Homo sapiens: one gene and its partners. The protein of the gene in region 5 purifies or fractionates together with the protein of the main gene of each other region. This does not show direct contact. Each region holds a gene or a part of one and is shown on either strand. Other genes may lie near its edges.

Region 1 (4,066 bases), on a different chromosome or scaffold from region 5:
CAAGTATGAATTGAAGTGGATCAGCCCCAATGGCCTCTATTTTCCCCATAACATAAGAGGTGAGGTTGACTGCTGAGAGTAGAGATGGGAGTTGTATGGAAGACTGGAGGAGGACAATGCCTATTTTTTAGAATCACTGATGAGGGATGTATGGGAAAGGCAGCTAAACAAGGACAAATTAAAGAACAGCTCAGCAGGCTGGTGATGGAGCAGTGTCAGTCATGGTCCCGACAAGAAGCAGATGGCACATTCAAGTGGTGTAACTGAGGAGCATGTCAGGAAGAGAATATTCACCAAGGTGTGAACAGGGTGAAGGGAAACTCATAAAGGCCAGTGAAGCACCCTGGAACTAGCAAGAGTGGGGAGCCTTTCCCACCCCCAGACCTCAGGGGCAAGAGGAGGGAGCAGATCCCAGATCCAGAGGGAATTGGGGTAATTTAGGAGAGGGCTGCCACACTGGAACTCATACAGCACAGATGCTGACATTATCTGAAGCCAGGCAGCCCTCTCTGTCTCCAGGTTCTGGTGACTGCTCCATCCTCTTGTCCCAGTCCCAGGGGATTCTGCTATTACTTGTGGTTTCACTATACTCTTTCTATACTTTTATAAATATAACTTTATTAGATTATCCAGTTTGAATACACCATCTATTTCCTGAAGGAAACCTGACATACATGGTTCTTTAAAAAGACTAATAAAATAGACAAACTCTAGAAAGAAGAACAAAGGAGGAGATGAATAATATTAGGAATAAAAAGGGAGACAAAGGGCCGGACGCAGTGGCTCACGCCTGTAATCCTAGCACTCTGGAGGCCGAGGCAGGTGGATCACTTGAAGCCAGGAGTTTGAGACCAGCCTGGCCAACATGGCAAAAGCCTATCTCTACTAAAAAAAAAAAAAAAAAAAAGAAAAAGAAAAAGAAAAAAAAAATTGGCCAGGCACGGTGGCTCACGCCTGTAATCCCAGCACTTTGGGAGGCCGAGGTAAGTGGATTAGCTGAGGTCAGGAGTTCAAGACCAGACTGGCCAACATGGTGAAACCCCTTCTATACTAAAAATACAAAAATTAGCCGGGCATGGCACACCCCTGTAATCCCAGCTATTCAGGAGGCTGAGGCAGGACAATTGCTTGATCCCAGGAGGCAGAGGTTGCAGTGAGCCGAGATGGTGCCACTGCACTCCAGCCTGGCTGACAGAGCAAGACTCTGTCTCAAAAAAAAAAAAAAATTAATTGGCCAGGCATGGTGGTGTGCACCTGTATTCTCAGCTACTCTGGAGGCTGAGGCAGGAGAATTGCTTGAACACAGGAGGTGGAGGTTGCAGTGAGTTGAGATCGTGCCAATGCACTCCAGCCTGAGTGACAGGCAAGACTCTGTCTCAAAATAAACAAGTAAATGAAAGGGGGCAGGAGAGACAAAGTACAGTTATAGCATGGATTTTTAAATACACTTATACTATGAACAACTTTATGCCAACAAATTTGAAAATTTATAAGTAATGGACAAATTCCTAGAAGATATATAACTTAAAACTCAAGAAGAAATTGAAAGCCAGACTAGATCTACTGCTATTAAAGAACCTGAAACAATGGATAAAAAATCTCCCCATAAAAGAGTGTTTTATGTAGCAAATGTAAATATTTCTAATGTCATTTTTTTTCTTTAAGAAAAAATTTTTAATAGAGATGGGGTCTCACTATGTTGTCCAGGCTTGTCTTGAACTCATGGGCTCAAGCTATCCTCCTGCCTCAGCTTCCCAAAGTGCTGGGATTACAGGTATGAGCCACTCTAATGTCTTTTTAAAATCTGACCCAACAATCCTGTGTACCTGTGTGTACTTCTTATTCTAGAAGAAGCTCTAACAGGCTGTGGGAAGCATCTGCTTTATTCACTGTTTACCCCAAGCCTAACATAGGCTTGGCTTGAACTTAACATAATGAAATGATGGCAGGAAAGTTAGAACATCTAGGGGATCAGTAGACATATGAGACTTCAGATAAGGGTAGGGGACCTTCATAAAAAACAGTAGGTCCCAAGTGAAACTCCAAACAGCCAGGGCAGGGCTGTGATCTTTAAGACTGAGCCCTAGTCCACCTGCTTTGGTACTAGTCAGTACCAGAAGTCCCTTCAGAATGAAAATCTTCATGCAACAAGTTTCTCCTTAAGATCTAGTCTCTACAACAACCTAATGAATCACCTCTGGAACACTGAAATTCACCATGTGGTCCTTTTGTTAATAGTGCTAAAGTACGTTATTAGGAAGTTCCTGAGAGAAACAGCTGAATAACATTACCAAAAAGGCCAGAACCCAGCTGGGTGTGGTGGCTTGTGCTTGTAATCCCAGCCCTTTGGGAGGCCAAGGCAGGTGGATTACTTGAGGTCAGGAGTTTGAGACAAGCCTGGCCAACATGGCGAAACCCTGTTTCTACTGAAAAAAAATATATATATATACAAAAATTAGCTGGGCATGGTGGTGGCCGCCTGTAATCCCAGCTACTCGGGAGGCTGAGGCAGGAGAATCTTGAACCCGGGAGGTGGAGGCTGCAGTGGGCCAAGATCATGCCACTGCACTCAAGCCTGGGTGACAGAGTAAGATGCTATCTCAAGATATATGAGAAGTTTTTCAGTAACTTTCAAGCTACTTATATTTGTTCCCCCACCCATATAGTTATGACCTGCAGTAAAACTTCTGAAACAAATATTTTCCTTTAAAGGCACCAAGAATCATGGTCTTATCACCATGACAAGAGGGTCCTAACTTTCATTTTTGATGTAGGGAAATTAACTTAGTTTTTATTCTTATTCAGAAGTTCTACAAAGTCATGTGGGTTTCAGCTGAACACAGGATGTGGGCACAGAACCCAGGGTTGCTTGAGGGTTAGATGAGACTTGGGAGGGTGTTGGGTTTTGCCTACCAGGAGCAGCTATGTTTTTGTTTTTGTTGTTGTTGATTTGTTTTTACTCCTGAGCTTCTGGACCAGTTTGCCATTAGAGCAGCCAAGAAGATGTAAGACTGTGTATCTCATGCAAAAGTGTTTTTACCATGAAGATCTGACTTCCAAATTCACAGGGGTCTCTCATCAGTCAGAGCTGAGTAGCTGACTTAAGCTCACATGACCCGGTGAAGGGCAAGCATCATCAGGTGGACTTGAGGGCTTCAAGTACGCTGCCCTGAAGCGCCAGGAATGTGGTTGCTAGGCATCCTCCCCAGGATCTACCCAGGACTTTCCTATCCAATTTTGTTGAAGCAAAACCTAGGGATTAAATTAAATGCAACCTCACAAACTACCAATGAAGGGTGTGGAAAACAGGGATCCTCTTTTTAACTATCTGCCCCCAAATATCAATCCCAATAAACTGTACTAAAAGCCATGGATGGCTAAAAATGCAGTTTATGTCTTTTCTCCATTCAAGCGTTTTTTTAATCATTAAACTATGTTCTCATATTTCCATCAGGCCCCAATGGATGGAGGATGCTAGCCCTTTAATGGGTGAGCAGGGGAGGAGCTGGGACTTTTAAAGCCAGGAGCGGCAAACAGGTCCTGGCCCAGGCTGCTATGAATAACTTAAACAGAAAGGACAGCAACAGTCAGGTGGTGGGTGTCGGCAGCAAGGCATCACCACACTCGGACGGTGACTGGTGATGTCGGTTGGGAAGTACTTCTCTTCCTGCTTCTAGCCTGTGCCTCATTTCTGTCCCTTTGTGGGACAGCTCCCTAGAGCCGAGCTGGGAGGGTGGGTGTTTATGGCAGTCTGAGACCCCAGGGTCTCTCTCCTCAAGACCATGGCCAAGAATTCTCTAACCATCTTGCTGGGAGGATTCCATGGCTGTTTTAGGGTGCCATGTCATCCTTACTGACTGAGGATGGTGCCTCTTGGCCTCTTTCTTGTCTCAGGTTTACCTTCCAGAGGCTGGCAATGCTGTTTCACTGGAGGACACGGCTAAGAAGGAAGTCCACCAGCCTGCCAAGATGAATTGCCTTGAAGGTATCAACAAGTGGGCCGTGATGTTATATAAAATGCCCCAGCATGCAGAGGTTGCTGGTCTGTTTCACATATGGGATTGGA
Region 2 (4,066 bases), on a different chromosome or scaffold from region 5:
CCGTGCCCGGCATATAGGCTTTTAAAAACAGAACAAGGCCGGCCAGGCGCGGTGGCTCACACCTGTAATCCCAGCACTTTGGGAGGCCGAGGCGGGCGGATCACGAGGTCAGGAGATTGAGACCATCCTGGCTAACACGGTGAAACCCTGTCTCTACTAAAAATACAAAAAATTAGCCAGACGTGGTGGTGGGCACCTGTAGTCCCAGCTGCTCGCGAGGCTGAGATACGAGAATGGCGTGAACCCGCGAGGCGGAGCTTGCAGTGAGCTGAGATTGCGCCACTGCACTCCAGCCTGGGCGACAGAGCGAGACTCCGTCTCAAAAAACAAACAACAACAACAACAACAACAAAAAACAACCCAGAACAAGGCCTATTGAGTGTCAAAAAGAAAGAAAGAAAAAAAAAGGAATATTATTTCCTGCCTTTGGGAGAAGTCTTCTGTGCTTTCCGTTCTGGTCCCAAGGCAGGATACTCTCAAGATGGGGGCCATAGAAAAGATGTGAGTCACAAATGATCTATTTGAATTATGGCTTGTTTTGACTCCCATCTTCAACTGCTTTTTTTTTTTTTTTTTTTTTTTGAGACGGAGTCTCACTCTGTCGCCTAGGCTGGAGTGCAATGGTGCCATCTCGGCTCACTGCAACCTCCACCTCCCGGGTTCAAGAGATTTTCCTGCCTCAGCCTCCCAAGTAGTTGGGATTATAGGCGCCTGCCACCATGCCCAGCTAATTTTGGTATTCTTAGTAGAGGCGGGTTTTCGCCATGTTGGCCAGGCTGGTCTCCAACTCCTGACCTCAGGTGATCGGCCAGCCTCGGCCTCCCAAAGTGCTGGGATTATAGGCATCAGCCACTGCACCCGGCCAACTGCTTGTTTTTAAGGAAGTCTGTATAGGGATAGAGTTGGGTCTCAAAATATGATATGAACAAGCAACATATCTAAGAAGTCCCACCTCATCTCATTTGCTCTTTCTCTGCTCTCAGAAGCACCCACCCAGAGCTTGTCTATCAGAAATAGGGACAAATAATACTAATCTCACTGGATTATTTCCTCCTATGACTGACTCAGAGAAAGCATGTGATATTTTTTGTTTGTTTTTTTAAAGACAGGTTCTTGCTATGTTGCTCAGGCTGGTTCTGAACTCCTGGCTCAACTGAACCTCCCGCCTTGGTCTCCCAAAGTGCTGAGATAACAGGTGTAAGCCACCATGACTGTCCACATGTGACATTCTTGATTCATCTTTGCATTGTTTGGTGTAAGAGTTAAACACGTGGAATTAAAAACAAAAACATGGCTAGGCTCACATCTGTAATCCCAGCACCTTAGGAGACCAAGGCAGGAGGATCAGCTGAGTTCAGGAGTTGTAAGACAAGCTTGGGCAACATAGTAAGAGCTTGTCTCTACAAAAAAATTAAAAATTAGCCAGGTGTGGTGGTGTGTGCCTGTAGTTCCAGCTACTCGGGACGCTGAGGTGGGAGGATCACTTGAGCTAAGGAGGTCAAGGCTACAGTGAGCCATGATTGCCACTGCACTCCAAGCTGGCTGACAAAGACCTCGTCTCAAAAAAATCAAAATAAATAAAAAAAATAAATAGCTGGGCACAGTGGCTTACGCCTGTAATCCCAGTTCCTTGGGAGGCTGAGGCAGGAGAATTGCTTGAACCTGGGAGGCGGAGGTTGCAGTGAGCCAAGATTGTGCCACTGCACTCCAGCCTGGGCAAGACAGCGAGACTCCGTCTCAAAAAAAATAAATAAGGTCAGGTGTGGTGGTTCATGCCTGTAATCCCAGCACTTTGGGAGGCCAAGGCAGGTGGATCACGAGGTCAGGAGATTGAGACCATCCTGGCTAACACAGTGAAACCCCATCTCTACTTAAAATACAAAAAATTAGCCAGGCGTGGTGGTGGCGGGTGCTTGTAGTCCCAGCTACTTGGGAGGCCGAGGCAGGAGAATGGCATGAACCCGCGAGGCAGAACTTGCAGTGAGCCGAGATCGCGCCACCGCACTCCAGCCTGGGTGACAGAGGAAGACTCCATCTCACCAAAAAAAAAAAAAAAAAAAAAAAGAAAGAAATAAAATAAATACATAAAAATAAAAACAAAAATACTTTTGTGTTTGGGTTTTATTGACCAGCAGACTATTGTTATTTTTGCTATACTTATTTCTAGTTTATAAACCGGCTCCAGCCTGCCTGCCTTTTCTTTAAGGTGAGATAATCGATCTGAGATTATTTAGGAAAATCTCCATATAGCATTTATCATGAATTCTTATGCAAGAAGAAACCGTTAAAAGCCTTCTATTTCATCTTCATCAACTTATCGACATTATTCCAAAGGGTACCAAAAACTACTTCCCACATTTTCCTAGAGTGAAACCATTCATAGGCCAGTTAATAGAAGAAACAATAGGTCTTTATTCATACCTGCTTATATGCTGTAATACTCTTTGAACTATTAAAGTAATGAGACTGTCCTTCCATCTGAAGTATGTGGGACAGACTAGAGCTGGTGTAACAGTAAGTGCCACAGTTCTCACAGCAGTTCATGATGAAGTTGTTAGCAGAGTGAAACTTTGAAAGGCAGGCATTACTGCAAAGATTATGTTTCACATTTTGGTATTTTACTTCATACTGAATCTAGGATTTAATAAAAAGATTCAGTAAAAACTCTGATATTTAAGCAGAATCATCAGAATCCCTGTAAAGGTTATAATTGGAACTTACAATAGCAGTCTTCTGGCACATGCTGCACTTGGTCAAAATGCTATTAGTACATATGGTAACAAATGGTTTTCTTTTTTCTTCATATGATGAAAGACAAGATAGGCTGCAAAAAGTTTTGCAAGAGGTAGTGTCTTCCAGCTGGACACTAATCACATCCTTTGGATTTAAAATGTCTCTAAGAATAAATAACAAGGACATCATTAAACAGTTTAAACACAATTATAACTTCTCTTTATAAATGAAATGACCTCTCAAATTAGAGTAAGAACATTAGCCTTGAAATAAGAAAACCTGAATTTGGTACCCAGTTCTGTCACATTTATACTCCCTAAATTTTAATTTTCTCATCTATACATTACAGATTATAAAGCACATCTAATAGTGCAGTTTTGTTTTTTAAGAGATAGGGTCTTGCTGTGTTGCCCAAGCTGGCCTCAAATTCCTGGGCTCAAGAGATTCTCCCACCTCAATCTCCCACATAGCTAGGATTACAGGCACATAATCCCACCATGCCTGACTTTGAAGATGTAGTTTTGGAGACTAGCCAGCCTGTATTATTAGGTGGTGCTAGTGAAAACCGAGGGATGATGAGAGATCACATATTCACATGAGCAACTCTAGAATCTATAGGACAGAGAATCTTAAAATATGGTCTTCAAATCCCTGGGGGAGTCCCCAAGATCAAAACTATTTTCATAGTAAGATGTTATTTGCTTTTTCACCGTGTTGATGTTTGCAACATCACTTTGCAACTGATGTTGCAAAGCTAATGGTAGGACCCTGCAATCCCACTCCTTGGTAAACACCCAAAAAAACTGAAAACAGGTACTCAAACAAGCACATGTACGTGCATATTCATAACAGCACTATTCACAATGGTCAAAAGATGAAAACAGCCCAAATGTTCATCAGTAAGTGAATGAATGAATAAGCACATTGTGTTACATACATACAGTGGAATATTATTCGCCTATTAACAAAAAGAATAAAGTACTGATACATGTTACAACATGGACAAACCTTGAAAATATTATGCTAAGGGAAAGAACCAGACACAAAAAGTCACTGCACTCTAGCCTGAGCAACAGAGTAATAATACCCTGTCACAAAAAGGTCATATATGATTCCATTTACATGAGATATTCAGGATAGATAAAATCTATAGATATAATGCATACTGGTGGTTGACAGGCACTGGGGGGAGAGGGAAATTAGGAGAAACTGCTTAGTGTTTAAGGTGTTTTACTTTGAAGTGATGGAAATGTTTTGGAACAAGATAGAGGGGATGGTCACACAACATTATGAATATACTAAATGCCAATGAAATGGTTAATTTCTTGGTATA
Region 3 (4,685 bases), on a different chromosome or scaffold from region 5:
AAGATGATTAAAATGATTCATACGCAATGACCCTTTATAGAGATTCATTTAAATTAAAATTTATTTTTCTACATCAAAATGAGGAGATCATCATGACTAAGAAATTTTGGATTACTAAATTCTTAAAAAATTGTCCACTTTTAAAATTCTATTAAGGTACAATAAATCAAACATATACTATGTTTTCTTTATCATTTATAGAAATTTAAAGTATGATAACAGGTATTTCTTGTTGAGGTGATTAGCTTGTCTCTCATACATTGGTGTTTGGAGAATTGTTTACTGAAACATTTGAAATGGTAATCCACAAATTGTTTAACTTTTTTATTATACCATCTGAGAATATGTTTGCATATTTGTGAAAACAATTGGAAACTGTCTCAGTTATGTTCATTTTGAGAATTACTATGTTTTGGTGGACACATTTGCTGGAATTTTGTGCAGATATTTTTAAAATATTTAAGTTTATGTGGTTACTATGAGATATTATTAAATAAATAAAACATGTTCGGAGTAATGTGTATAATACAAACTCATTTTTTGTAACAACAAACAGAAAGAGTTACATGTTGGTAAGTATATGTGTCTTTGATTGGTTATGGAAAAAATTATTAGGCATTTATTCCATACTTTTAACATCTTTTAACCTCCACAGATTTAGAATTGTTTTTCTGGAAGAAATTGTTAATCTTCTCTTTTATACATTTCATGTTGTTTTCCTCATTTTAATGCCTTCGTATTATATTTCTAAATATAATTTTCTTTTATAAAACATGCAAATTTTATACGAAGAAAAACAGCATAAGTAAACTTAAAGACTATTTATATACAATGTGGTTCCATTTAAAAGATAGATAATGGATGCCATTAATTCATAGAATATATAATACATTTCTTTATGTTAATACAGAAACAAAGCCTGATAGAAATATAGTCAAAGAACAGGCAATTCATAGGAGACAAAAATATATGGCCAATAATAATAATAAATATAGTTGACTTTAATATTAGGTCATCATATTTGCCACAATCAAAAAAGTCTCCAGAATTCTCAGTTTTAGAAAGGATTTGGTTAAATATCTACTGTCTATAAAATTGTACGTTTCTAAAGTATTTTATCTCTATCGTAATTTTAATGTTTGTAAGTTTTGACTTGTGTTTTATTTGTAGAATATATGGAAATAATTCTACATATCAATAAATTGGCTTGCTTGTAGTAAAAATGTTGCAAGCATATTAAATATCTTTCAACAGAATTTGAACATCTTTCAACAGTTAAAATTATACTGTAACACGATGCAATATTTTGAAGCCATTGAAATATTGAGACTGATCTATTTTTATATTAAAAATTATTAAGACATTTATAAGTGAATAAAAACAAATTGCCGAAGTGTATGCTAGGATGATCTAATTTATATTATAAACTCCAAATCTAAATTATTATATTATTATAAATACTATATATGTGTACATTTAAATAGAAATAAAAAGGTCTAGACAGAATTGATAACTATGTTTTCTTCTGTAAATAGGAGAAAGACTGAGGAATGGTAAAAGTTTAGCAGTAAGAAGAATTATGTCTATGTTGTTTGAATTATATACAGTTAGATTGTATTCATGTATTTATTCATGTATTATTTGTGTAAATAAATAAATAAATATAAAATTTCCAAGGAATATAGGAGTTTGTCAAGGGGCTATGAGGGAACAATGAGGCTGATTGATTAGTTTTGGAAGCCTAATAAAACAAGAGTAATAGCGGTAGACATCCCTGTACTTTTTGGGGGAGAAATATGCCTAAGATAATAGAAACATCTGGTCCACCTAACAGATAAATTATTTTGCATTCAAATACATTAGATACCAAAAAGATGCAGGTTATTGACATTGTATGCCTTTGATTTAATATTTATTAAGCACTCATCTAATAATTTTGCATTCTCTTTAACTTGCTTAATAGGGAAATTGGGGTGTTTTCTGCTCAACAGACATATCTGACCTGTATGATAATGGAATTTCTCATTATAAGTCAATAAACTTTTGTTCTTTCTGTATCTTTCAGTCTTATGATGTAATCAGCGCGATTTCACTTCCTGAATTTCGATGAATTCTAAGACATGGGCAAGATCGGGTTGTAAGACCTCTGAGATTTAAGGCCATGCCCTGGATCATGGTGAACTTACCAAAGCAAACAATGCCTGTGAGATGGTCCTGCAGCAGCCAACCAGTGAACTCTTTTGGTGACATCCTGTTCTTGTTGTATAACTTTATATTCCTATAAATCCATTAAGGCCCCAATAAAGTTTGTCTCTAAGCGCTGTGTTAGATCTATATGACTACATCTAGTAAATTGTGAATTTTAAGTAAATATTTTATAAGAACTCCTATGTAAAGCATTACTAAAATTAGTGTTGAAATATGACCTTCTTCCTACATTTATTCATTTATTTATGTCTATTTATTCATTTATTTTAGTGAAAAATATAAGGAAAGTAGAGGAAGGTTAAATCCAAAAAAGAATTGTTTCCAGTACACTTTCTTTAATTTGCTGTCAGTTTTTGCATGGAATCTACATCTTTTTATGCTAATCCTCATCCTAGTATTTTACATCTTAACTATTTTTTTCTGACTGAAATGGTTGATGTGCTTGTTTTTTGTAATTTTCTACTTTCCTTCTAAAATGCTTAGTATTGAACAAATAGAATATCCTAATTAAAAACAGTAATAAATATTATGGTGAAAAAATACAAGTAAAATGGGAAAACATTAGATAGCAGCTTTCAATATTTCATATAGTTCATAAATGTTTCAGGAATTACAAGGTTATAGAAAAAAATTTATAGACTATAATAATTTCCAGGGATATAAAAAAATAAAGCTTCTACCTTTGAATTGTAATAATAAAAGATAAACAGACTTGAAAGCATATATTATATCTGAAAATGTCAGATAAACTTGGCTTATAAATTAAAATATAAAATAATAATACAATTTGTTCAAATAAGTAATTAAAGCTTACATTGTAAAATGAATATTTAGAGAGATTGTGAAACCTGAGTATTTTACCCAATCCTCTGAAATTAGTCCCTAGCATCAGAATTAAAGAATCTGAAAAATCACAAATGGAGGTATGGTGACATTTATGTATATTCTAGAGTTATGTTATGCACACTTAATAAATTATAGACAGTTATTTTAAAGATTGTATAATATTACTAATCACACATTAGAGTTTTAAAACTTCTGAGCCAGGCTGAACATCACAAACAGTAAACACAGACTTCTTTAAAAGGACATCTGGTGAAAGGCATTTTATGCATCAGAAGGCACAGTATTATAAAGATGACAACACTCTTCAAAATAATCAAACTATTCAATGCAACCCTTATCAAAATTAAGGTTGCCTACTTTGAAGAAATTTATAACCTGATTCTAAAGTTCATATGAAAATGTAATGGACCCAGAATAGCCAAAACAATCTTGAAGTATACAAAGTTTGAAGAGTCACATTTCCAAATTTTAAAACTTATTACAAAGCTACAATAAACAAGTCTATGTGGTACTGGCATAGGATATAAATATTGATCAATGAAATAGAATCCAAAGTCCAGACATAAGCCCTCACAAAAGTTAATTTGCAGCCAATTAACTTCTGAGAAGGAGGCAAGACAAAAGGGGAAATAACTATTTTCAATAAATGGTACTGGGACAACTTGGTATCTACATGCAAAAAAAAAACAAAAAAACAAAAAACTTCCACCCCTACCTCATGCAAAATACAAAAATTAACTCAAAATAGGCCAAAGACTCAAATATAAGGGTTACACTATAAAACTCTTGGGAGGAAATATAGAATAAATTTTTGTGACCTTGAATTAAGTATTAGATTTTTAATTCTTACACCAAAGCACAAGTTAATAAAGGAAAAAAAAGATAAACTGGACATAATTAAAATTGAAAAAAAATTTGCTTCAGTGAACACAGTCAAGAAATTTGAAAGACAGCCACAGTGCAAGATTATTTTTGCAAATAATATGTCTCATAAATGACTTGTATCTAAAATATATAAGACCAGGCATGGTGGCTCATCCTGTAATCCCAGCACTTTGGGAGGCTGAGGCAGGGGGATCACTTGAGGTCAGGAGTTTGACACCAGCCTGGCCAACATGATGAAACCCCATCTTTACTAAAAATACACACACAAAAAAAATTAGCAGGGTGTGGTGGTGTATGCCTGTAATCTTAGCTACTCAGGAGGCTGAGGTGGGAGGATAGCTTGAACCTGGGAGGCAGAGGTTGCAGTGAGCCAAAATTGCACCAATGCACACTCCAGCCTAAGCAACAGGGCAAGACGCCATCTCAAAAAATAAAACAAAATAATAAAATAAAATAAACAGTAATTACCGCTAAATAATAAAACAAACAATAAACCAATTTTATAACGAAAGGATCTGAATAGATTCTTCTGTAAAGAAGACATACAAATCACAAATTACACATGAGAAGATGCTCAACACTATTAGTCATCAGGGAAATGCAAATCAAAATCACAAAGAGACAGCAATTTATACCCAGTAGGATACTTATTATTATTATTATTTTAAATAGCAAAATAATAAATGTTAGAATGTGGGAAAACAGGAACATGCGGCATTGTTGCTGGTAATGATAAATGTGCAGCC
Region 4 (4,579 bases), on a different chromosome or scaffold from region 5:
AATTAACTTAAACTCCACTATGTCCCTTCAGCAATTAGGTTAGGTACCCCATTTGTTCTACTGTTGTATATACTGCATGTTTTACACAGGCATTTTCAAGCTATTACACTTTATTCTGCCTTCCAATTAAACATTGTAGCAGTGACTCTTTCATCATCTATCCTGTATGATTGTCCCAATAATTAATAATAAAGTACTATAGTAGCAACTTGTACTCTCTTGATCCTAACAAAACCCTGTAATGGGCTAATATTACTTCATCCATATGTCTTCTTTGTAGACATAGAAACTGAGGTTTAAAGAGGTTACATTAGTTATTCCAAATCAAACGGCTTGTAAGTGGCAGGGAAGATGGCATTCAAGACCCGGGCTCAAATAACTAGCCTCAATGTATTAAGTAAGGCACTAATGAGGGGCATTGCATATTAAGTAAAGCCCTAGGAAAGGCATTGAGATAGAGGTTCTGAGGACAAAGAGGGCTCTAAATCAACAATCTTAACCGAAAAATACACAAAAAACTTGCTGGGCGAGGTCGGGCCTATAATCCCAGCACTTTGGTACCTGAGGCCGGCAGATTGCTTGAGGCTAACAGTTCGAGACAAGCTTGGGCAACATAGCAAGACCCTGTCTTTACAAAACAAACAAACAAACGAAAAATACACAAAAGCAACACCAGAGGCCCATTTGCATGGCGTGTTTTTGTTTATTTGTTTGGCCTAATATGGTTTCGTTTTGTTTGGAAGAAGGGATTGTGCCCTCCAAGCCTTTGTCGTTTCACTCACCTCTCCCAACCTGGCCCTGTCCAGCCCCTCCCTGGAGGGCTGGGCATATGGATGCTGGAGGTCACAGGCTGCCCAGGCAGGTTGGTGACCTCGGAGGCAGAACCACGGCCTCGAGTCGGGCCTCTAACGGCGAAAAGACTGACGCGGTTGGACCGCGCCATTCCCGAAATGTTAAGGAGCTTAAACTCCGCATCGTCCTCCAAGATAAGTAGGAAAAGGGCAGTCAGAAAGAACGTCTTCCCCGTCCGCCGTCTTCCTGCGCGCCCTTCTAGGAACCCAGCGTCCATCCCACGGCCTGATTTACTAAGGGAGTCTTGTAGCATACGGGAGGGGGAAAAGTCATTGATTGCAATTACGGTAATTTGGTTAGTTACTCAAACGGTCGTTTACATATAACTTGCATGTTAATATACTTCTGGAAGTATGCATATGTCCATACTTCTTTAACAGGGCACCCACGGCCGCCTGCTCACCCTACTTATGCAGCAAATTTTACTTCTCTCTCGGCTTCTTTAGCCTCGCAAACGCTATCGCTTAGGTCCGCTTCTTAAATATTGGCCCCTCCTCCCACCCGTAAGCTCCTCCCTTCGCCCTCTCTCCCTCGAGAGCTTCCAAACATCTTTTCCCCGCCCCCTTTTCTATTTCTGAACAGGCATGTTCCAGGCAGCTCACCCGACTCCTTAGATTACTATGGAATCGGTAGGGTCCTGACCGCTGGGGAAGCAGGAAAGCGTATCCTGGGAAGAAAGGCTTGGCTTGGACTCCGGAGAAGAATACTACATCGAGACCTGCTGGGGAATTTTATTTTATTTTATTATTTTTTTGGTCTTGGTTGTACTGAGGGAGGAAGAAGAGGTTGTGTGGCCCGGTCGAACTTGTGGCAGCCTGAAGGCCCCCTCAGGCGGCGCCGCGGGCAGCCCCGCAGCCGGGGCCTGGTGCAGCCTCCGCGGCCGCTGTCAGGGAAGCGCAGGCGGCCAATGGAACCCGGGAGCGGTCGCTGCTGCTGAGGCGGCAGTGTCGGCAGTCCAACCGCGACTGCCCGCACCCCCTCCGCGGGGGTCCCCCAGAGGTAAGCTACTCCTCCTTCATGAGTCACCTTTGCCCTGTTGGGTGGGGGGGGGGGTCCCTCTCCCACCCTGTCCCGCACAGTCTTCCCCACCTGAGTTCGACTACGAAACTGCCCTCTTGGTGTCAGCTGCACCCCGGGTTCCTTCTCCACCCTTTCCTCTCAGGCCTGGGGTCCTCCTCCGCTTTTTGGCTTCCTCTTCTATTAGCTCCTCCCTCTGCCTCGGGGATTCCCCCCTCCCTCACTCATCCCTGTTGCCTACGTCTCGAATAATTCTTTTTTTTAAGTCATGAACCCTTTCCATATCAGACGACTCCCATAATGCCCATCCTTGTCCTTCCTCGTCGTCTCTGCCCCTGCCCCAAACCTTTTCCATGGACTCCACCTTTATCTCTTTTCCTAGTTTGCACTTTTCCTCCTATGTCCCTGTGCAACTCCAGCACTGGGTTCCCATTTCCCTGAGCTAAAGATTGCATCCCTGTCTTCCTGTGCTGCTTCTGATTCCATTACCTCACTGTCACCCACCTACCCAGCCAGCTCCTGGCTTCCAAGAATTGCCTGTTCCCTTCTCCTTAAGGGATCTCGGGCCCTTGTCATCAATCCAAAAGTACCATTTACATTCTTACTTTGAACCTAGTCCTCACTCTTCTCTGGGATGCATTATGATCCCTATAACTTTCTTTAGCTTCTCTTTCTCCCTCCTCAATCCCCCAACTTTCTAGAGGTTTCTGTCTGTAGGGGAGAGATTTGACAGTGCCCTTCCCATTCAGGATTTCCAACTTTGACACCTCCCTCGAGTTTCAGGGATTTCTCTGATCCTTGTGACATTTGTTCTGTTTTTCCCGTGGGCTTCATGTGTTCTCTGTTACACTCTTTATCTCCACATACCACTTATTTCAGGATCAACTAAACCTTGAACTAAGAAGAAAAATGTGTTGTGAGCAGGGGGAGCCTCAGCTGCCTCAGGCCGTTCAGGACAGAAGGGTGTTTCTGAAGGCCGGAGCAAGTTTTGAAGAAGTCCCTATCAGATTACACTTGGTTGACTACTCCGGAGCAGCCACTAAGAGGGATGAACAGGCCTGCGTGGAAATTGAATGAGATTGTGAGAAAACTTGTTTCAGATTATTTAATTTTAGGCTTTTGTTAAAGGAATCACAGAATAGAGTGCCTTCTCACCCCTGTCCAGATCCATGAGGAATCAGTTTATTCTTGTGGTTTACTAGAATAGTTTTGGTTGGTTCCATAAGAATTCAGGCCTGGAGTGGGGTAAGGGTATAACTGGAAAAAGGAACATGAGACAATGGAAAGAGCTTGTACATTCAGAATCGGGACTCCTGGGTTCAGCATGTGACTTCCTCACTTGACCTCTAGAGTGATCCTTTTGGAAAATGCCCACTCTCTGTAGGCATCAGTGCAGTAATAAGTTGGTAGCAGGATGTGGGTTGGGGGAAAAAATCAGATTTGGTTTATTTGTTTACAAAACATTTTGGGTTCCTCAGGCAAAAGGTATTTATTAGTAGTGGTTTAGTCATCCTGAGAATTTTCCTTCACCTTGGTCTTTCTGTCAGATGTTTCTAGTCCACAACCAGGGGTGTAAGTCATTTTGAAAGACAAGCTCCAGGCCTGCTTCCTTCATCTGCTTTGCTTTTTCCCCCAGTGCATTAAGTGGCTGATTTTCTGTCCTGTTCCTCACGTACTTGATCCATAACTCCAGATTCTATAGGTAGAAAGTATGTTTGTGGGAAAGCACTTTGAGGAAGCTGGCTGGAAAAGAGAACTTGGAGTGAACTGAGACTTAGGCAACTAGTTGCTGCCATGTCTCTCTCAGCCTGTGATAGCGAAAGGGCACGTGAGATTCCATTCATTTTCTGATTCTAGGTCTGTTTGGGAGTAGTTATGTCATCTTATCCCACTTCCTTTCTCTTCCTTGTCGTTAGTCATGGTGCAGTCTCCTCATAATTCCCCTTATTAGAAGCTTTCCTGCCAGGCGCGGTGGCTCACACCTGTAATCCCAGCATTTTGGGAGGCCGAGGCAGGCAGATCACCCGAGGTCAGGAGTTCAAGACCAGTCCGGCCAACATGGTGAAACCCCATCTCTACTAAAAATACAAAAAATTAGCCGGGCATGGTGGCGAGCTTCTGTAATCCCAGCTACTCCGGAGGCTGAAGCAGGAGAATTACTTGAACCCAGGAGGCGAAGGTTGCAGTGAGCCGAGATCACGCCACTGCACTCCAGCCTGGGTGACTGAGTGAAACTCTGTCTCAGGAAAAAAAAAAAAAAAAAAGCAGCTTTCCTCCTTGGAAGCATCCCCAACCAGAAATCATATTTCCTCTCATTTCCCTGCTTTCTTCTTAGAGTTGAGTCCACGCTCCATGAGAATGCTGAACACCATCCAAAGCAGCAAATTGAGATTCCTTGATTTGGGGAAGAGGTTTGGGAGGAACCCTTCAATAATTGGCATGGGACAAGAGGGGACCCAGTCCAAGTGTATTTGGGACTCGCAGTAGGGAGGAACAATTCAGAGAGAGGTGAGTGCACAGGCTGCTTTCTTTGCCATCTGTTTCAGTAGCGGCTCCCATAGCTGGCTTGGGCTGTCTGGCTGGAATCTGCTTATACCAGCTCCATGGCTCTGCACAGAGTTCTCAGCCTGAATCAATATTGACTTAACTACCATGAGACCACTGCCCTCCCTACCCTCGTGCTAGTAGCTTGAGAATGCCCTCTCCCCTA
Region 5 (4,066 bases):
TCGTTTTTTCACTTAAATGTGGCATAGTATGCTTAATATTTTTATTTTTGAATGTTTTATAAACATTTTTCATTAATTATTTTTAAAGATATAGAAGACTTCATGAATTTGCGTGTCATCCTTAAGCAGGGGCCGTGCTAATCTTCTCTGTGTTGTTCCAATTTTAGTAGATGTGCTGCCAATGTGAGCACATTTTTCATTTTTTTAGAGACAGGATCTTGCTCTGTTGCCCAGGGTGGAGTGCAGTGGCACAATCACAGCTCACCATGATCTGAAACTCTTGGGCTGAAGTGATCCTCCTGCCTCAGCCTCCTAAGTAGCTGGAACTACAGGCATGTGCCACCACATCTGGCATTAAATCTTTTTTCTTTTTGTAGAGATGGGGTCTTGCTATGTTGCCCAGGCTGGTCTCAAACTTCTGGCCTCAAGCATCCTCTTGCCTTGGCCTCCCAAAGTGTGAGCCACTGTGCCTGGCCCTTATAAACATTTGCTAACCAATGTCATAATGCAGAAGAACCTTGCTAAAAAAGTATCTCACTGTCCATAGATTCAGTTTATTGTCCTTAAAATGAATGTACAGGTATTATTTGGTGTTTTTGTAAGATGGAAAGCCTATACAAAGTATTCCTGTTTCTTACCCTCCTCTATGACTTTCAATGATAAAAGTTTGGGACGGTACTGACACACTTCTCCAGATGCTCTGCCCTGCATACTATTACCACATGCTGCCAAGGTCTCAGAACTCACAGGCAGTGGCATTATCAGTCAGAGAGGACTCTCACCACAGAAGTTACAATGAAAGCCACACAAATTACATAAGCAAGCCCTGCTCTAGGTCCAAAGTTAACAGCACCCAGCAAAGTATATATTACCACCTGCCCTCCCAACCCATGAGTAGCAGCTAAAGAGAGCACAGTGTTCTCGGCCTAATGCACTGCCTCTTGGGCTTTTCAGTATGTGACTTGCTAAGCAATTCATGCTGCTGTTGCTGCTTCTTCCCAACAGTCTTATTACTTAATGCTGTGTCATCATCATCGTCCTTGAGGCAGAATTCAGGGATTTCTTAACCAATATAGTGTTTACAGAAACTGATTTCTATGTATGAATTCCTCTGGGGTTGGTACATAATTTCTCCTGATTGCTGATTCACATAACAATGCAGGCATTCCTGGAACCAAGTTTCTGTAGTGGTACCCCTGTAAAACTTCTGCAGCATCCAAACCATAACATATTTTTTTAAAAAAGGGAACTTTTCCTCACAAAAGGGATCCAAGGAAACAATTAAACTTCAAGAACAAACACGTTCACCTCTTTCTCTGCACAAACACACACATCTACTTAGATGTAACTTTGTGCCAATGTAACCAGTATAAAAAGCATGTCTGCTATGTTTACTACTATAAAACAGAAGCATATCTGTGAATATTTTCTTGAGAAAGGGTCTTGCTCTGTTACCCAGGTTGGAGTGCAGTGGTACAATCATGGCTCACTGTAGCCTCGACCTCCCTGAGCTCAGGTGAATCTCCCACCTCAGCCTCCCAAGTAGCTGGGACTGGTGATGTGCACCATCACCCCTGGCTAATTTTTGTATTTTTTTGTAAAGACAGGGTTTGGCCATGTTGCCCAGGCTGGTCTCTTGCAGCTTAAGCGATCTGCCTGCCTCGGCCTCCCAAAGTACTGGGATTACAGACGTGAGCCACTGCACCCACCCCAGTATTTTAACTTAAGTTTTTTCCTCTGATACGTTGCCTCTTCAAAATTAAATTCAGAAAAGTATTTTTAAAAATCATCTATAACCCCACCATGCAGAGATGGGTCAGCTCCCCTATATACTGGCAGTATCAAGCACAGTGGCATGTACCTATAGTCCCGGCTACTTGGGAGGCTGAGACAGGAGGATTGCCTAAGCCTAGGAGTTTGAATCTAGCCTGGGCAACATAGTGAGACCCCATCTCTGGAAGAAAAAAAATACTGGCAGACTACTTTACAGTCATGTAGTGTCTCCCCATGGGTACCATGGTACTAGGTGCTTTCAGACTTTTTTTTTTTTTTGAGACGGAATCTTGCTCTGTCGCCCAGGCTGGAGTGCACTGGCACGATCTCGACTCACTGCAAGCTCCGCCTCCTGGGTTCATGCCATTCTCCTACCTCAGCCTCCCAAGTAGCTGGGACTACAGGCGCCCGCCACCACACCCGGCTAACTTTTTTGTATTTTAATAGGGATGGGGTTTCACTGTGTTAGCCAGGATGGTCTCGATCTCCTGACCTTGTGATCCGCCCGCCTCAGCCTCCCGAAGTGCTGGGATTACAGGCGTGAGGCACCGCACCTGGCCTTGTTTCAGCCTTTATGCGACACAAGAAGATAACAATTTCTGCTGCTTGGCTGGGCGCGGTGGCTCATGCCTGTAATCCCAGCACACTGGGAGGCCGAGGCGGGTAGATCGCCTGAGGTCAGGAGTTCGAGACCAGCCTGGCCAACATAGTGAAACCCCGTCTCTACTAAAAATACAAAAATTAGCTGGGCTTGGTTGCGGGCACCTGTAATCCCAGCTACTCGGGAGGCTGAGGCAGGAGAATCACTTGAACCTGGGAGGCGGAAGTTGCAGTGAGCTGAGATCATGCCATTGCACTCCAGCCTGGGCAACAGGAGCAAAACTCTGTCCCAAAAAAAAAAAAAAACCCAAAAAACAAAAAACAATTTCTGCTGCTTAAACATGCAAGAAATGATACACTGAACTAAAAGTACAAACTACAAAAATATTTTATAAGAAAAATTTTTATAAGTATTACTTATAAATATTTTATAAGTAAGAAAAAGCTATTTCATATATTTCACAGCATATATTTCATATATTCATATATTTCATATACTTCATATATTTCACTTGGGCAGTATTGATAGTCTGGATTAGTCATTTCTAGCTATTTCCAATATGAGGTCTCTGAACCAACCCAACCCTAGCAGAATTATCTCCTTGCTTTCTCAAATGGCTGTTAAAAATGGCTACAAACCAAACCACTCTAAAGATTTCTGCAAACTGATTTAAGACATGGCTAGGTATTTAGAAAACAGTATTAAAAACTTTAAAAATTAAGCAAACACCAAAGTTTTTGGTAAGAAAAAAGAAGACAGTGCTGGCTCAACCCTTAATTTCAACTACTCTTGAAGAGATTTTTATTTTCCTTGCAAACCCAATAATCAGAAATAACAAGATGAAATCAAAGGTTTTAAATAAGATACTTTAAAAAAAAATCTGAGTACTTCTAGTAGGGGTGTGTGTGTGTATGTCTGCACACACGAAGACCTACAGCAACAATACCTCAGAAAATCTGATTTAACCTTTCACCTGCCAGCTGGTCTTTCTGGCACAGATACCAAAATACCCTCTCCCTGGCTGTGAGCTAAGGATCCAAGTAAGACTGAACTCCATTCTCGGGATAGGTAACGGAAAAGCTTTTCCTATAGCTACTCTTTCCCTTTCCCCCTTTACTAATATGGATATCACATTGTACTGTACAGGCAATATGTACTTCCCTGAAATACTGTGCATTAGCTTTATGCCATGAAAAACCACTTGTAACCAATTGTTTAAATGACTGCAAAATATTCCAACGTATGTAAGACACACCTTCCCCAGCATATATAAATCAAGCTTTGTCAATTTTCTGCTATTAAACAAATATATTAATGAACACATTTGTTAAGGCACTGAAACAAAGTATTCTCTGTAGCTTCCCTAAATTAATTTGGTAGTTGCCTAGGAGAAGCCAGATAAATGTGGAGAATATTTTTATTCTCTTTTGAAAAGACAAAAAAAGAAGTCTAACTAGCATGAATATGAAGATCTACAGCAGCTTAATAGTTTTCACTTACTATTTCTCCTAGTAGGACCACATTTTCTCCTCTGACCACAAAAATCCCTCGAGGAATATCACCGTATTTTTTGCCCACATGAATACGCTCCACAGTCTGATGTAGCACTAAGTTTGCTGTAAGTGTATAGGGAAAAACCAAAGATATTTAGTTTAAACTACTGGGTAAAGGCCCATAACTCAATAATCAGTT
Region 6 (4,066 bases), on a different chromosome or scaffold from region 5:
CTGAATTCCAGCACTTTGGGAGGCAGAGGCAGGCAGATCATTTGAGGTCAGGAATTCAAGACCAGGCTGGCCAACATGGCAAAACTCATCTCTACAAAAAAAATACAAAAATTAGCCAGGTGTGGTGGTGCATGCCTGTAACTCCAGCTACTTGGGAGGCTGAGGCAGGAGAATTTCTTGAACCCGGGTGGGGCGGAGGTTTCAGTGAGCCAAGATCGCGCCACTGCATTCCAGCCTGGGCGACAGAGCAAAAGAAAAGAAAAAAACAAAAGAATCGAAAAGTGCAAAATTACCAACAACAGAGCCCTGACCATTTCTTCCCCACCAAATCCTACTCTCCTGAGGCAACCACTTCCCTTCTTTTATCTCAATCCTCTGATCAGTCAGGAAAGGCATTGTCTATGTCAGAGACACAGCTTCATCCTGGGAATCTTCACACCTCCTCCCTGGGTGAAGCCATTATTCCATGACTCTTGGGATTGCCTTCTTCTTAATCTATTTCTGTTTCTAACTCATTTATTTATCTCACCCATTTATTTACCATCAAGTCATCTAGGTATAAACATCAAAATATTTTTGTTTTTTCCTTTTCTTCTTCTTTAATTTCTACTTTCGATGTTGCTATATTCACTTGCTTTTTTTCTCACTGGATATCAGGTCCTCTAACAACATCCCTGCCAAACTTCACAACTTTCTTGTTGCTATTATTATTTTTTTTTTCAGAAGAGCTTCTCAAGATGGTGGGCATAGGCGAATGGATCATGTACCCCTACCAGTGCTGAGATGTTAGGGGCCAAGAAAAAGCACAGGAAAGGCAGAGTTCTTGCAGCACTGGCTTTGGGTTTGCAGAGGGAGGGGTTCCCACAGTTTCTGGTACAGTCTGATTTCATTTTATTTCAGTACACCGTGTGTGTAGTTTCTTGGACAGGGTGACTGACCATCAGTGTCACCCTGTCTGTCTTCATCATTAAGCACTCTCAGGACCTGAATAGATCCCAGATTCAAATTCTTTTCATGGTTGGACATCCTATCACTTGACCCATTGATCCCTTGGGGAAAATCTCATGGTTCCAACCCTTCTGCCAACCACTGGCTTCTTTGCATGGAGTCATGAGAGCCTTCAGTCTTCCACACTTTAAATGTCTAAAAGTTCTGAGTTGGGGTGGGAGTTTCTGCCAAGTTCTTCCAAGGAATGTGACCCCATAGTTTCTTTAGGCTCTGCTGGTGCTGGGAAGGTTAGAGCCTTGTCTGTATCTCTAGAGTACACCACACTTCAGTAAAATCACATCAGGGTCTCCCTGAACTCCCTCACCACACACTGCCCTGGCCAAGGAGCCAAGGTGAGCCTGTGGGTCTCTAGGTGTGCCAGTCATCCAGATGGGGGCAAAGCTGCCAGTCCCACTGACTGTTTGAGTGATTCTCTTGGGAGGCTCCATCCTGGCGATAGGAGAGCATCCCCTGGCCCTTCTCCATGAGGAGGTCAAGAACTCACCTCTCACCACAAGTGATGCCTTTCCTACAAAGCATCCCACTCCCCTTTTCTCTTCCCTGTCTTCCTCTTATTCATGAGATACTACATACATTTATTTGTTTATCAAAAAATATTTGTTAGTTCCCATAAGAGGTCCGCACCATTCCTGCCACTGAGCACATAGTTCTCTGGCCTCAAGACAAAACAGGTTCCCTGGCCCCACAGAACTGGCATTTTGGTAGTGGAGATAATAAATAAATAAATAGATGGATAAATACATTTTCCAAAACCATGGAAGCATACATTTTATGAAGAAAATAGTTGAGCAAAATAAGGGGCTAGGACATGGGTGAGGGACTCTTGGAGATAGGCTGGCTGGGGAATACCTTATTGAGAAGTTGGCTTTTTTGCATATGCATGGAAGAAGCGAGGGAGTGGACCACTTGTTGACCTGGGGAAGGCTGTTCCTTCAGAGGAACAGGAAAAACTCCCTGCAGGCGAAGATAAGCTTGCAGGGCAAGAAAATCAGCAGAATCCAGTACATCCAGAGCAGGGAAGTCAGATGGGCAGGGATAGAAGGCAGCAGAAAGATAAAGAGGACCCAGATCATGTGGGCTTGGTGAGGGCTTTGGTTATTTGGGGCATAAAGCAAAGCTATTAGAGGGTTCTGTGCAAGAGAGTCATACGACTTTATTTACATCTTTGATTCTGGTCACTGCTAGGTGGACATCTGACTCTAGGGAGGTAAGAACAGAAGCAAGGAGACTATTGCAATGCTCCAGAAGATAGAGTCAATGGTGGATTTCCAAGAGCAGAACCACAAAGAGTGATTGGGAGTAGGACTGACCAATAATATTCGGTTTCAAGAGTAATGATTTTCTTTCATAGCCAACATTGAAGCCGCGTCTGACTCCTAATTCAGAGTTAGAAAGCCACAAGACCTCCAAGTTCTCTCCTCTCCTCTCCTGGACACATTATAGATTTTTCAGTATCCTCAACTGAATGCAAGACTGTGTTCCGGCTAGTGCAGTATGCAGGAGACTATGACCCAGGGGAGGCATGTCACATAATCATTAAGAATAGAGAGACTTGGCTTCTAACTTGGCTAGATTTCTTAGTAGCTGTATGACTTTGGGTACATTCTGTCATCCCTCAGAGCCGCTGTTTTCTTACATGAGAAATAAAATTAATGGCCCCTAAAGAGTTGTGTGTGGGACGGGTGCAGTGGCTCACGCCTGTAATCCTAGTACTTTGGGAGGCCGAGGCGGGTGGACTGCCTGAGCTCAGGAGTTTGAGACCAGCCTGGGCAACACAGTGAAACCCCTTCTCTACTGAAATATAAAATACAAAAAACTAGCCCAGTGTGGCAGTGGGTGCCTGTAGTTCCAGCTACTCGGGAGGCTGAGGCAGGAGAATCACTTGAACCTGAGAGGCGGAAGTTTCCATGAGCCGAGATCGTGCCACTGCACTCCAGCTTGGCGACAGAGCGAGAGCGAGACTCCATCTCCAAAAAAAAAGTAAATGTAGCGTGAAGATTAAAAGGTTACTCAGGTAAAGCTCTTACAACTTTAGCAGAAACAGAATAAGCTCTCAATATTTGTACCATATAAATGTGACATGGTGGGTGTGTAAAACTCCTGCAAGGAGTACTGTGATTGGCCTAACATCAGATGCAAACACAGCAATGGCTTCATGCAGTTTAGTGGGTCAAGAGAGCCACACCTCTGCCTCCAAGGGAGACACACCTCTGCCTCCAAGGAAGACCAGTAAAGGCACTCTCCTCAACTCAGCATCTGGCCTAATCCGCATTTCCTCATTGCTGTTTTCTGATGTTGCCTCTGCTCTTGTTAATCAGGAAGCACAGACCAGTCATGCTTGTGTTGCTCCACTGTCAGTCCTCCAGAGCCTCAAGAGATCTTTGGGCCATATCAGCTTTCTTTCCAAAATGAACACACCCAGGGGCAGGAAAGAATGCTCTTTCCTTGGTCATTAAGGGGCCTGGGAGTCCTGGACCAGCTTTTCATGCAGCTAGACCACTTACATGCAACTAGAGCCTTGACTTTGAAACGAGGGACAAAAGCATCTCTTGCTAAAGGTAACTTCTGCTGCTTAGAACCCAGGTATGGGGAACTTCTTTCATGTCTCTGTGTTTAGCCTCGAAGTGCCTCTGGGAGTCTTGTCAAAGGTACAGAGTACTGAAGGATCCAGGGCTGCTTACAAGGGTGCAGGTTGGTGATCTGCTTATCCACTGTGTAGGGACAACTATTGAATCACACATCAAGGATCCTGAGAGAAGGAGGGTTGTGAACAACTGGTTCTCATTGTGGAGTGTCTGTGATATTCTTGGGGACTGTTCTGGTGCCCTAACTAGAAAACCAGAGGCAGATGATCCCTAATAGTCAAAGCACCTTGTGGGGCCCTCAGTGGCCATGTGCATGATCCTTACAGATGTCTCTTTGGATGAGGAATGGAAGAAGATGGGCTCAGTGAGGCAGGTTAGCTACAAATTACTTAGGAGTGTTCAGCTTCAAGTCAGGAAAAGTGGTGATTAACCTGCTGTGTGGAGGGCTAAAATGGAGATACACACACACACAC
Region 7 (4,066 bases), on a different chromosome or scaffold from region 5:
CAGTAGCACAAGCATAGCTCACTGTAACCTCGAACTTCTGGGTTCAAGCAAGCCTCCCACGTAAGTCTCCCAAAGCACTACTGGGATTACAGGCATGAGCCACCACACCTGGCTAACATATACTACTTATTATACAATGACAAGTTATATATGTCTAAGCCAATTAACAAATTTATTAGTCCTTTCCTTATAATGAGGCCACTTAAAACCTAAACCCACCATTCTCCAGTACAAGGACACAGACTTCTGGGCACTTCATAAAATGTTACATCAAACCTCTGTGGTAAGCAGCACAAAAATGTCAAAGAAATAATTTCAACTATACAGAAACACTTTCAACTATATTTAGCATATCAGTTACAACACATTGGTCCCTTCTATCACCCAAGAAAGAGTAGAAAGAATTCCATTTTAAGTATTTCAAATCTGTTATTTAACAAATGATACATGCAGCAAATTTCTCCTAATAAGACAATCAATTCCTGTAACAGAAAGTCAGAGAATAAAAAGATTAAGTTTGACATTATTTTATGTATTTTTAAAAATTATTTTAACATCAAGAAATCAAAACAAGCAAATCAGATTATATAATGTGTATAAAAATCAACCCTAAAATATGCTGGCATATTTCATTTTATCTGTACCCATTTAAAAAAAGTACAAATATAGGGAAAGGTTATATTTAAATGCATGAAGTATACTGAAAATGACACTTTCTAAAAAGTAGAAACATGGCGATAAAGAAAACTATTAATGTTTACCTCATGTATTGAACTTACATTTTTTTTCTGTAAATTGATGAAGCAAGCAAGATTTTCCTACTCCCATGTCCCCTGTTTAAAAAAAAAGAAGTTTCAGGTGGCAATTACATTTCTCAATTTTATGCAATGATCGCTATATTCCTTACCATATAACATATCACAAGTTTCTGGGACACTTAACAAATTTTTATTTTCCTACTTTATAATGATTCAAAAGTTTTCACTGTGAGACACAAATGGAATATTATTCCCAATCTTTAGCAGTGACAGAATTTGGCTGTAAATTATTACTGTTAATAAATAGCCACCAGCTGGGAAGTGCTTATTTTTTTAATGGAATTTTTTTTACTTTGAGCTGTTTCAAAATTTTATGTTTTTGTTTTCTTTTGTTTTTTTCCTTAAACTCATGCATAAAAGCAACAAATTTCAAAAACTGACAAATGGGGTAGCATGTAACAAGCAGAAATAACAAACTGAGTTCTGGAAGCTTGATTCACTAGGTCCCTGTCTTATACTTCTTGTATTATTCTATGAAAGAAAAGAATTTGCATTACATGAAAACCCCAGGAGAAAAGATGTCATCTCTGACTGTACTATAGCAATGTTAACCCTTGATGAAGGAAACATTAGAAAGGACACATTAAGTTCAACATGAAAGCAAACTGTTCTAATGTGAACAATTCATTGAAAAACGTGTACTTTCAAATGTAGTTTTATGTTTGGATAAATAGCATTAAGACTTAATTTGAGCAAAACCTTCTTGAAACTTAAGGAAAAAAACACCAATTAAGAAAAATACTATATTTTATATATATTACACAATTGATTTGGAATCAAACAATATTCTCTACCAATTTTTCCTTATAACAGAAACCCAGGGGAATCTGAGAGCTTTCACAGTATTTTAGGAATGTTTCTGCACTCCTTGAAACACTGATACTTCCTAGCATCAAAAAGCTTTCAAGCAGCCCTCAAGAACAATGAACATCACTTCACAAGGTACCCACCAGCACTGTACCACAGAAATATCCATGGCCACAATGCAAAAGCTGCATTGCTAATGCAAAAATAAATCTTATAAAAGGAGTTTTAGTTTTACAGTAAGAAAATCACTCAGTCCTGAAGTGGTACTGTTTAAGTATTAACATATAAATATTTTGTATGTTAACCTTCTTTTGGGAACAAGAGTGTAAGTTAAATAAACTTACCAATAATAATATATTTAAAGATGTAAGAGTAGTTGTATGGTGCAGTTGCCATGGTGGCACTAAAAACAAAGAAATCTCTGTTACTTCAGAAGGAAAGCATATACAAGTAATTCAAACGGATGACTGATATCCTTTAAAGGTAGAAAAGGACACTGAATACAAACAAATGTTGGTTACAGTAAGTCAAAATAAAACTGCATTTCACAAACTGATCAAATACACAAATTCTCTTGGATGAATGATGCTTACACATTCTCATGTGCTATCCACAGAAATATAAGAAACCATTTATACCACAACTCCAATATTTCACTTAATATCCACTAGAACTTAAAAGTATAATTTAAAAAAAATCCAATAAGTATTAATCTGAAAATTGTCAAACAAAAAAATCTTTATAAATTTAAGTTAAACATCACTATAGTCTCTTCTCCCCTTAAAGTCCCCTTCCCTGTTAACTGATCAAGTAAGTTACTAATGATCTACTTGTTCAGAACTCTGATATTAAACAGAATGGTATATAAAGGAACCACTTAATTTATAAACACAAAACAACGTTTTTACTCTACTTTAAATCAACAGTTAGCAGCGCAAAGAGCAATCGTATGATTTCCAAATCAATGTTGGAACTAGACTGAATCACATGAAACTGTTCTTCCTATAGATTTTTCAAGTCAAAGTTTATTGGCATTTTCATATAGCTCAACCTAATACAGGACTTGCAGATTATCACTCACACACACACACACACACACACACACACACACACATTTTTTGAAGACCAGGCTGGTCTTGGGTCTTGAACTCCTGGCCTTAAGCGTCCCTCCCATCTCAGTCTCCCAAAGTGCTAGGATTACAGGCATGAGCCACTGTGCCCAGCCAGATTAACAACATAGTAAGTGCTTCCCATACACTATTCTAGGGACTGAAAGAAATAATGTCATAAAATTGTACTTATGGTTGCAAAATTTGAAAGCTTGTGTATTAGAAGATATTTCAAAAGATCACAGCCCATTTCTTACCCTCAAATAGACTTAACCTAAAGAATTCTAATTTCTCTTCTACTTAAAAAGAAAACAAAAAACTTTCCAATTTATTCAAATGAATTATCTGAATGTGTAAGACACGTGCTAGGTCCTAGAGAGAAACAAGGGGCTGAACTGTAAAACTGGTAATAACTTTCAATAAAGTTTATTCTCAAACCAGCTTTCAGCTTAAGACAAAAATTATTTATACATATAAAGATTTCACCCATTTAAAAAAATCTGACTTACAGTATTTTTAAGCCTGGCTTTTAGTGTTTCTGTCAATGTCACATTACACAAGCCAGACATTTAATATGACTGGAGAAATTTATTTACTGAAATTATCACCTTACTATATACCATATTTCAAGCAAAAGTTCTATATAACAACATTGAACCCGTAGAAAGAATATATATTTAAAACAAGTGTATTATTATAAGGGAAGAGGAAGTTGTTAATTACAGTAAAGTATTAATCACTTCCACACACTACAGTCTTCTCACTTAGCTATCTGTATTACATTTAGTGAAAGTAGAAGCCTTGTTACCCATTCCAGTTTGGCATGTTCTAACACATTTATAATCAGTCTCCTGCATCACAGAAAACTCCCTTAACCAGTTCTTTCAGGAAAGGGAGTTTTTCTAGTTAGATTAACTGATTCTGAACATCACAACAACTTTATTCCCTTTTCCAGGCACTAGGAACTCAAAACTTTTAAGAATGAACTTGGTCCTGAGACTAAAACTGGTCTGGATTATTTACCTGATCTCTGAACCAGATGCCAAACACAAGGGGGAAAAGTAATCTCTTACATTAAAAATATTTAAAGATTATTAACTTCTTAACTTGAATTCTTCCGACTCTTCTAATCAATTTTTAATTCTTCTAAATTCTTTCCCCATTCAAACCTGGGTAAAAGTAATCACTTAGTCACCTTCAAATTACTGTCTCTTCTGTGCTCTTCTCCCTTGATTTTCCTAATTTCTTTCCCTCTTCTAACTAAAGGTTGTAGCTGTACATACTTTGCTCCTTCTATTTTATGTTAAAGCTATGACTTCTAACAATCCCAAA

The links.
Region 1: the proteins of LSM1 (region 5) and PATL2 purify together in Homo sapiens (co-immunoprecipitation; one large-scale study listed by IntAct). This does not show direct contact.
Region 2: the proteins of LSM1 (region 5) and ZMYM1 purify together in Homo sapiens (affinity purification with mass spectrometry; one large-scale study listed by BioGRID and IntAct). This does not show direct contact.
Region 3: the proteins of LSM1 (region 5) and NBDY purify together in Homo sapiens (co-immunoprecipitation; one study listed by IntAct). This does not show direct contact.
Region 4: the proteins of LSM1 (region 5) and PI4KB purify together in Homo sapiens (affinity purification with mass spectrometry; one large-scale study listed by BioGRID and IntAct). This does not show direct contact.
Region 6: the proteins of LSM1 (region 5) and IL36B purify together in Homo sapiens (affinity purification with mass spectrometry; one large-scale study listed by BioGRID and IntAct). This does not show direct contact.
Region 7: the proteins of LSM1 (region 5) and RAB14 purify together in Homo sapiens (affinity purification with mass spectrometry; one large-scale study listed by BioGRID and IntAct). This does not show direct contact.

The regions. Positions count from the first base shown.
Region 1 is NC_000015.10:44,676,394-44,680,459, reverse strand, and holds part of PATL2 (protein PAT1 homolog 2), read left to right. Parts: intron 1-2,596; exon of another isoform or gene 2,597-3,555; coding exon of another isoform or gene 3,556-3,594; exon of another isoform or gene 3,595-3,733; intron 3,734-3,894; coding exon of another isoform or gene 3,895-3,969; coding exon 3,970-3,985; intron 3,986-4,066.
Region 2 is NC_000001.11:35,103,125-35,107,190, reverse strand, and holds part of ZMYM1 (zinc finger MYM-type protein 1), read right to left. Parts: intron 2,897-4,066; coding exon 2,722-2,896; intron 2,635-2,721; coding exon 2,422-2,634; intron 1-2,421.
Region 3 is NC_000023.11:56,815,255-56,819,939, forward strand, and holds the end of NBDY (negative regulator of P-body association), read left to right. Parts: intron 1-2,065; 3' UTR 2,066-3,925; downstream 3,926-4,685. UniProt on the Homo sapiens protein: Promotes dispersal of P-body components and is likely to play a role in the mRNA decapping process.
Region 4 is NC_000001.11:151,324,543-151,329,121, reverse strand, and holds the start of PI4KB (phosphatidylinositol 4-kinase beta), read left to right. Parts: upstream 1-1,705; 5' UTR 1,706-1,851; intron 1,852-2,748; exon of another isoform or gene 2,749-2,942; coding exon of another isoform or gene 2,943-2,950; intron 2,951-4,204; exon of another isoform or gene 4,205-4,377; intron 4,378-4,579. UniProt on the Homo sapiens protein: Phosphorylates phosphatidylinositol (PI) in the first committed step in the production of the second messenger inositol-1,4,5,-trisphosphate (PIP). May regulate Golgi disintegration/reorganization during mitosis, possibly via its phosphorylation.
Region 5 is NC_000008.11:38,165,928-38,169,993, forward strand, and holds part of LSM1 (U6 snRNA-associated Sm-like protein LSm1), read right to left. Parts: intron 3,991-4,066; coding exon 3,875-3,990; intron 1-3,874. UniProt on the Homo sapiens protein: Plays a role in the degradation of histone mRNAs, the only eukaryotic mRNAs that are not polyadenylated. Probably also part of an LSm subunits-containing complex involved in the general process of mRNA degradation.
Region 6 is NC_000002.12:113,032,157-113,036,222, reverse strand, and holds part of IL36B (interleukin-36 beta), read left to right. Parts: intron 1-3,366; exon of another isoform or gene 3,367-3,566; intron 3,567-4,066. UniProt on the Homo sapiens protein: Cytokine that binds to and signals through the IL1RL2/IL-36R receptor which in turn activates NF-kappa-B and MAPK signaling pathways in target cells linked to a pro-inflammatory response.
Region 7 is NC_000009.12:121,191,392-121,195,457, forward strand, and holds part of RAB14 (ras-related protein Rab-14), read right to left. Parts: intron 2,029-4,066; 5' UTR 2,022-2,028; coding exon 1,970-2,021; intron 834-1,969; coding exon 780-833; intron 1-779.